Homo sapiens: one gene and its partner. The protein of the gene in region 1 purifies or fractionates together with the protein of each later gene. This does not show direct contact. Each region holds a gene or a part of one and is shown in the gene's direction. Other genes may lie near its edges. The genes, in order: ESYT2 and SLC25A17.

Region 1 (3,823 bases):
AAAAAAAAAAAATACAAAAGTAATTTAGCCAAAGATTCTTTTCAAGTTTTTAATCTGTGTGACTTAAACTGATGAACTGTGGTGTTCACCTCATGAAGAATTTATATTTTCTCCAGAATGTTTTACTTGTTTATTCCAAATTTGTACTTGAGCTCATAATCCCACATGTGTAAACTTCAGTGTGCCTAGGATGCTTAAGACGCTTCTTGAAGGATTCACATGAAACTTGACAGTGATTATGTTGACAGTTTTAGAGAGATTTTAAAAATATCTTTTAAATTATACTTATGTATCTATTTTGTGATATTTATTAAAAGTGTAATATACTTTATTTTCATAATAAAACCAGCAGGTTGCATGGTCTCGAAGTGTGCCTGAAATTCTGCTGCGCGGCAGGGGTGGTGGGGGTGGTCAAAGCACATCAATAATAGAAGAAACTATGAATAAGAAAAGTTAAGATTTCAGTATTACTTGCACTTTGGGTTTGTTTTTGTTTTTTTTTTTTTCTAGAGATGAGTTCTTACCGCGTTGTCCAGGCTGGTCTCAAACTTTTGGCCTCGAGGCATCCTCCCACTTAGACTTCCTAAAGTGTGGGGATTACAGGTGTGAGCCACCATGCCTGGCCAATATTACTAGTACCTTGATTTTTACCATACATACATTGGTGCTTGGGGTTTCTGAACTTTGGACTGGTATTTTGCCTTGAACAAGATGTATCTGTACATCCCAAAGGCTGTACTTGTTTTCATAGTGTGTCGTTGACAACCGTGAATTCATGGCAGAGTGGAAACATAGGAAAACATGAATTAAGGAGATACTAATTTCCTCACCTCACCTTTGTATATATTCACTGACAGCTTTTCTTCTTACTGAGTAAAAACTGAAGCTGGATATGGAAATGAGATAAGAGTATTAATACTTTGAGAAACTATATGTACTGTTCCTGATTGAGGCTATTAGGATGTGACAGATGGCTCTCACTTAACTGTGATAATTCTGTAAGTTTGGTCCTACAGCTTTAATATAAACAGTGTTGTTATTCTTCACTTCTTTTCCCATGAACAGTTATGTTCCAACTGCTTAGGGGAAAGGCCTGGCAGGCTGGATGAATTGAGGACAGGGCTTTTTGTTGTTTAAGTGTCTACCCTGTGGTAATGGGCCCTGGACCATTAGACTACCCTGGGTGAAGAAGAGAAGATTTATTTATTTATTATTTCATTTATTTATTTATTTTTGAGACGGAGTCTCACTCTGTTGCCCAGGATGAAGGGCAGTGGCATGGTCTCGGCTCACCGCAACCTCTGCCTCCCGGGTTTAAGCGACTCTCCTGCCTCAGCCTCCCAAGTAGCTGGGAGTACAGGCGCCCGTCACCACGTCTGGCTAATTTTTGTGTTTTTAGTAGAGACAGGGTTTCACCATGTTGGCCAGGCTGGTCTCAAACTCCTGACCTCAGGTGATCCACCAGCCTTGGCCTCCCAAAGTGCTGGGATTACAGGCATGAACCACCGCGCCCAGCCTTTTTTGTTTTTTAAAGAGAGGCGGTTCTCGCTGTGTTCCCCAGGCTTGAACTCTTGGGCTCAACTCTTGGGCTCAAGCGAACCACCTACGTGAGTCTCCCAAGTAGCTGGGATTACAGTTGCATGCCACCATGCTCAGGGCTGTGAGGAAGATTCTTGAAGAGTTTTTATAGAGATTAATAAGGGCAATTTTTCATTACTATTTTTATTTATTTGAAAATATTATCTCTTCATAGGATAAAGTCTGACTCTATCCTGCTTTTACTATTGCCAATAAATGCTGATTGTATGGCTGCTATGGATAATACTGTCACGGATAATACTACTTAACTGTTCTGACAGTTGGTCTTTTATTACCCTCATACTTGGATTATTGAGAATTAAAGCATATTAGCTTCCTTGGTTATGTTGTTCTGTACTTTTGTATACAAACTTTCTCTGGGGAGAGCTTTCTTCCCATTGCCCTTCTGGGAAGTTCAGGAAAATTTAACTCTAGCAAAAATATGGTATGTATAGTCTAAGAACTAAATGAACAGAAGAAAATAATGCACTGTGATCTCATGTAAAGAAAGGGCAAATATTTTTTTATTCTCAGTGTTAATCATTGACTTAATACTTTAATAAAATATTGTGAAGACTTGTAACTGAAAATAGTTGGCATAGCTAATTCAGGAGCCACAATTTAGCTATTTTAAACAAGTGCTTCTTCAGCACCTGAATCCGAGTGGTCATGTGGTTGAGGAAGTGTTGGAGTCCTCATCGTAGCTGCAGATAGGATGAGGATGCTGCTTGGGTTTCTTGTTCACACCCACACTGCGGCTGAGACACAGAAGGGAAAGGATGTGACCGTTGTTGCTTCAGTTCTGTGGTCTGAGAACCTCCTTCAGTTAGAACATTAATGCCCCAAGATGGCTAAAAATAAAGCAGTAAATATCAGGTTTTTAGTTTAAGCTAAAAAATAGATTTAAATTTAGGATATATGCAATCCATCAGCCTGTATGTTGTGGATTTAGTAAAATTTCTACTTAAGATTAATATTATTATCATTCTACATTTAAGGATGGGAGGGTATAGAGCTAGGACTGAAATATAAATAGTTTATATGGATATATACACTTAAAACATAATATATTTTATAAGTACGTATTCATAAATGTAAACTTCCATCCTGTGAAGATCAGTTATGGAATAGTGTTATTGTTAGACCTAATGAACCTATGATCGTTTCTGTAGGCTTTCATGATTTCCACATTGGTCACAGCCTTTAACCTTGAAGTAGACATTCTGAATATACTAAAAACCATCAAACTGTTTACTTTAAATGAGTGCATTGACGAGTATGTGAATTATGTCTCAATAGCACTGTTAAAAAATATAGACATCAGGGCTGGGTGCGGTGGCTCACACCTGTAATCTCTGCTCTTTGGGAGGCCAAGGCAGGTGGATCACGAGGTCAGGAGATTGAGACCATCCTGGCTAACACGGTGAGACCCCGTCTCTACTAAAAATACAAAAAATTAGCCGGGCGTGGCGGTGTGCGCCTGTAGTCCCAGCTACTCGGGAGGCTGAGGCAGGAGAATGGCATGAAACTGGGAGGCGGAGCTTGCAGTGAGCCGAGATCGCACCACTGCACTCCAGCCTGGGCGACAGAGCCACAGTCCGTCTCTAAAAAAAAAAAAATCCAATGTCTTTTTTTTTTTTTTTTTTTTTTTTTTTGAGACAGAGTCTCACTCTGTCGCCCAGGCTGGGGCACAGTGGCACCATCTCGGGTCACTGCAACCTCCGCCTCGCTGGTTCAAGCAATTCTCCTGCCTCAGCCTCCCAAGTATCTGGGACTACAGGCGCACACCGCCACATCCAGCTAATTTCTTTTGTATTATAGTGCAGACAGGGTTTCACCATGTTGCCCAGGCTGGTCTTGAACTCCTAAGCTCAGGCAATCCGCCTGCCTCAGCCTCCCAAAGTGCTAGGATTACAGGCGTGAGCCACCATGCCTGGCCTGAATTTCTTTTAATAATGGATGAAAAGGTGGTCAGTTATAGTGCAAAGTGAGGTACACCTTTGCTTACGGAATTCTAGCTAAAACTGTAAAAGTTTTTAAGGAATATTGTTCTAACTTAAGTTTGGGGGTATTTACATTTTAAAGGAGAGTTAATGAAAGGGTTAGGTATATGAATTTTAAAAACTAGGTAAATATTTTTAACTTAAACCTAATAGTACTTTATTTTTTGAGCTGGAGTCTCACTGTGTTACCCCAGGCTGGCCTCGAACTCCTAGGCTTGAGGGATCCTCCTGCCTCAGCCTCC
Region 2 (3,823 bases), on another chromosome or scaffold:
TGTAGCTCTCTCTTTGAGAGCCTGCTTTCCATTCTTCTGGATATATACCCAGAAGTGGGATTGCTGGATCATTTGGAATTCTGTTCAGTTTTCTCGGGAACCTCCATACTGTTTTCCATAACACTGTAACATTTATAATCCCACCAACAGTACACAGAAGTTCCCATATTTCCACATCCTCACTAACACTTACTTTCTGTTTTATGATAGTAGCCATCCTAATGGGTATGAGGTGATATCTCACTGTGGCTTTGATTTGCATTTCTCTGATGATTAGTGATGCTGAACATCACTTTTCATATGTTTGTTGGCCATTTGTATATTATCTTTGCAGAAATGTCTGTTCTGGTTCTTTGTCTATTTTTTAATCAGGTTATTACATTTTTTTGCTCTGAAGTTGTAGGATGTCTGTATGTGGTATAATAAAAAATGTATGTGGCCTTTGTCCCTGGTTCCTGGCACAGTTCCTAAAACCATTGGAATTTCCTGAGTAGTAGTATCTTTTGTTATTCCTAATGAGCCCCTTTGAACTATCTCTGAGTTTAGGCTAATAAAGTTACTATTGGTGGGCTCCTAGATAGCTTCAGGATGGAGGCTGGTGGCCAGAGGAACCAGCCATGTGCTTAGAGAGAAGGGGAGAGAAGTTGAATTTTGGATAAATAACTCAGGATAGAAGTCTAGGAGTCATCACAGGCTCTTCGTGCCTTCCCACCCTCCACATCTGCTTGGCCATCAAGAACCACTGGTCTGTCTCCTCACTGTCTCTTGGATCCATTTCCTCTTCTCCATATCCATAGCCATTTCCCCAAATCAAACCTTATCATTGCTCACCTGGACTATTGCACTATAGTCTGATCTTCCCTTTGAGGTCTTCCTCATGAACCCACTTTGCACAGTTTTGCAGCCTTTCTAGGAGAGTAGTTTTCAAAGAGTATCACGACTCAAAGAACTCAAGTTTGAGATTTGTTCACTTGGGGAAAAAAATTAGAATAGTTCCTGTACAGAAAAAGACTTGTTTTTTACATAAATTACAACAAATGGCAATCTAGTGGGATCTTCTATACTTGAGACCAGTTATTTGTAATACTTTGATTTTAATCATTTTAGATTAGTTTATATGTATTTGCATTTGAAAGATTATAACTTACAGGGACTAACTCATATAACTTTCCATGAAACTTCTAATTCATGGACTATATGTTGAAATCTTTTGCTTTTTAAATTGTCCAAAGCGGTTTATTTGCTGTGTCTGCCATCCCATTACCCACCAGATATATACCACCCCTGTGTTACTCTCTCTGTCCTGTTCATCTTTCTAACTCTTAGTGCAATTTAGGATTACAGCAGACTCCCCCATACCTAACACAGCTGGACTGGTATAGTAGGGCAGTTAGCTTTCATTTTTTACTTTTTTCCACTTGTCTAAAATTTTTTTTTCAGGGCTCATGAACAATTTTTTTCTTTTTTTTTTCAGGGCTCAATTTTAAAAAGTCAGTTAAAGTAACACATATAATAAATAGCCTACTAACCTTAATTGTTGTATTTTAACTTTAAAGTTCACTCTTCCACTTTTTTTTTTTTTTTTTTTTTTGAGATTGTGTCTCACTCTGTTGCCCAGGCTGGAGTGCAGTGGCATAATCTTGGATTGCTGCAACCTCCACCTCCTGGGTTCAAGCAATTTTCCTACCTCAGCCACCTGAGTAGCTGGGATTACAGGCACCCACCACCATGCCCAGCTAATTTTTTATATTTTTAGTAAAGATAGGGTTTCACCATGTTGGCCAGGCTGGTCTCAAACTCCTGACCTCAGGTGATCTGCCTGCCTCGGCCTCCCAAAGTGCTGGGATTACAGGCGTGAGCCACCGCGCCCAGCCTAAAGTGTTTTCTTGAGTGTGTGAGAAGGGGGTAGGATTACAGTTGACACATAGGAGAGTCTACGGGTCTGTGTTGACTGTGAGCATCATCTGTTGTCTTGTCAGAAAATGGTCCAAGGCCAGGTGTGGTGGCTCACCCCTGTAATCCCAGCAGTTTGGGAGGTCAAGGCAGGAGGATCACTTGAGCCCGCAGTTTGAGACCAGCCTGGGCAACATAGCAAGACCCCATCTCTATAAAAAATAAATTTTAGACCAGGCGCGGTGGCTCACGCCTGTAATCCCAGCACTTTGAGAGGCTGAGGCGGGTGTATCACCTGAGGTCAGGAGTTCGAGAACAGCCTAGCCTACATGGTGAAACCCCACCTTTACTGAAAATACAAAAAATTAGCCAGGTGTGGTAGCAGGTGCCTGTAATTCCACCTACTTGGGAGACTGAGGCAGGAGAATTGTTTGAACCTGGCAGGCAGAGGTTGCAGTGAGCCAAGATCATGCCACTGCACTCCAGCCTGGGCAACAAGAGGGAAACTCTACCTCTAAATAAACAAACAAACATAAAATATTTTAAAAGGTAGGGAAAGAAGGAAAGAAAGAAAATGAAAATGGTTGGGAGACCCAGCTCCTGAGTCGCTGGCATCAGGGATCCTCCGTGGCGTGTCATCGGCATCGTCGGGCCCCTGGTGCACCCCCGCGGCAGACAGAGCTCACGCCCCTTCCCACCCCGTGGCTGGTCCGGGGTCCGGGCACCGCGTGGACGGTGTCTCTGTAGGACGCAGGGACCGGGCTGCAGCCCATGCCTCGAGCAGACTGCATTACGAAGCATCTGTCATACTCCTGCCGGGACCAAGTGGTATGGGGCTTCGGCCGTGGCTACAAGCAGCTGGGCATCCCCCACAGCTAATTTTCCTGAGCAAGTGGTAGATAATCTGCCAGCCGATATATCCAGTGGCATTTATTATGGTTGGGCCAGTGCTGGAAGTAGAGATGGTCAGAAGATGGTGGTGAGCATAGGATGGAACCCATACTATGAGAATACGAAGAAGTCCATGGAAACACATACCATGCATACCTTCAAAGAGCACTTCTATGGGGAAATCCTGAGTGTGGCCGTTGTTGGCTACCTCAGACCAGAAAAGAACTTTGATTCATGAGAGTCACTTATTTCAGCAATTCAAGGTGATTTTTGAGGAAGCTAAGAAATGACTAGATTTACCAGAACATTTGAAACTCAAAGAAGATAATTTCTTCCAGGTTTCTAAAAGCAAAATAATGAATGGCCACTGATGAAAAATCATATTATTTATTCATTCACTGTCTTCCAGTATTTCAGTGTTTTGTTTTGTTTTTATTTTATTTTATTTTAAGTTTTTGAGATGGAGTCTCGCTCTCTCTCCCAGGCTGGAGTGCAGTGGCGTGATCTTGGCTCACTGTGACCTCTGCCTCCCAGGTTCAAGTGATTCTGCTGCCTCAGCCTCCTGAGTAGCTGGAATTACAGGCGCACACCACCACGCCTGGCTAATTTTTGTATTTTTAGTAGATATGGAGTTTCACCATGTTGGTCAGGCTGGTCTCGAACTCCTGACCTCGTGATCTGTCTGCGTTGGCCTCCCAAAGTGCTGGGATTATAGGCATGAGCCGCAACGCCCGGCCCAGTGTTTATTATTGTCCAGCCTCATCTTGGTTATATTTCAAAAATCAAACATTTTCCTACAGCTGTGAATTAGTTTAAACAGTACAATGTAGTTACCATATCATGCTTCATCTGTTAAATTAAGCCCATCATGTCATAGCACTAAAAAGATTCATTTAAAAATCAAGATTTAAAAAATATATATTGATTAAGATGTACCACTAGGAAGGTATTACATGCGTATAAGTATGGGTAAAAAGGCAAGTCACTAGTTTGTGATGAAAAGTGAAATTTTCATGGTAAAATACCAGAATGTATGTAC

Evidence for each region.
Region 2: the proteins of ESYT2 (region 1) and SLC25A17 fractionate together in Homo sapiens (co-fractionation; one large-scale study listed by BioGRID). This does not show direct contact.

What each region holds. Positions count from the first base shown.
Region 1 is NC_000007.14:158,822,705-158,826,527, reverse strand, and holds part of ESYT2 (extended synaptotagmin-2), read left to right. Parts: intron 1-3,823. UniProt on the Homo sapiens protein: Tethers the endoplasmic reticulum to the cell membrane and promotes the formation of appositions between the endoplasmic reticulum and the cell membrane. Binds glycerophospholipids in a barrel-like domain and may play a role in cellular lipid transport.
Region 2 is NC_000022.11:40,788,109-40,791,931, reverse strand, and holds part of SLC25A17 (peroxisomal membrane protein PMP34), read left to right. Parts: intron 1-3,823.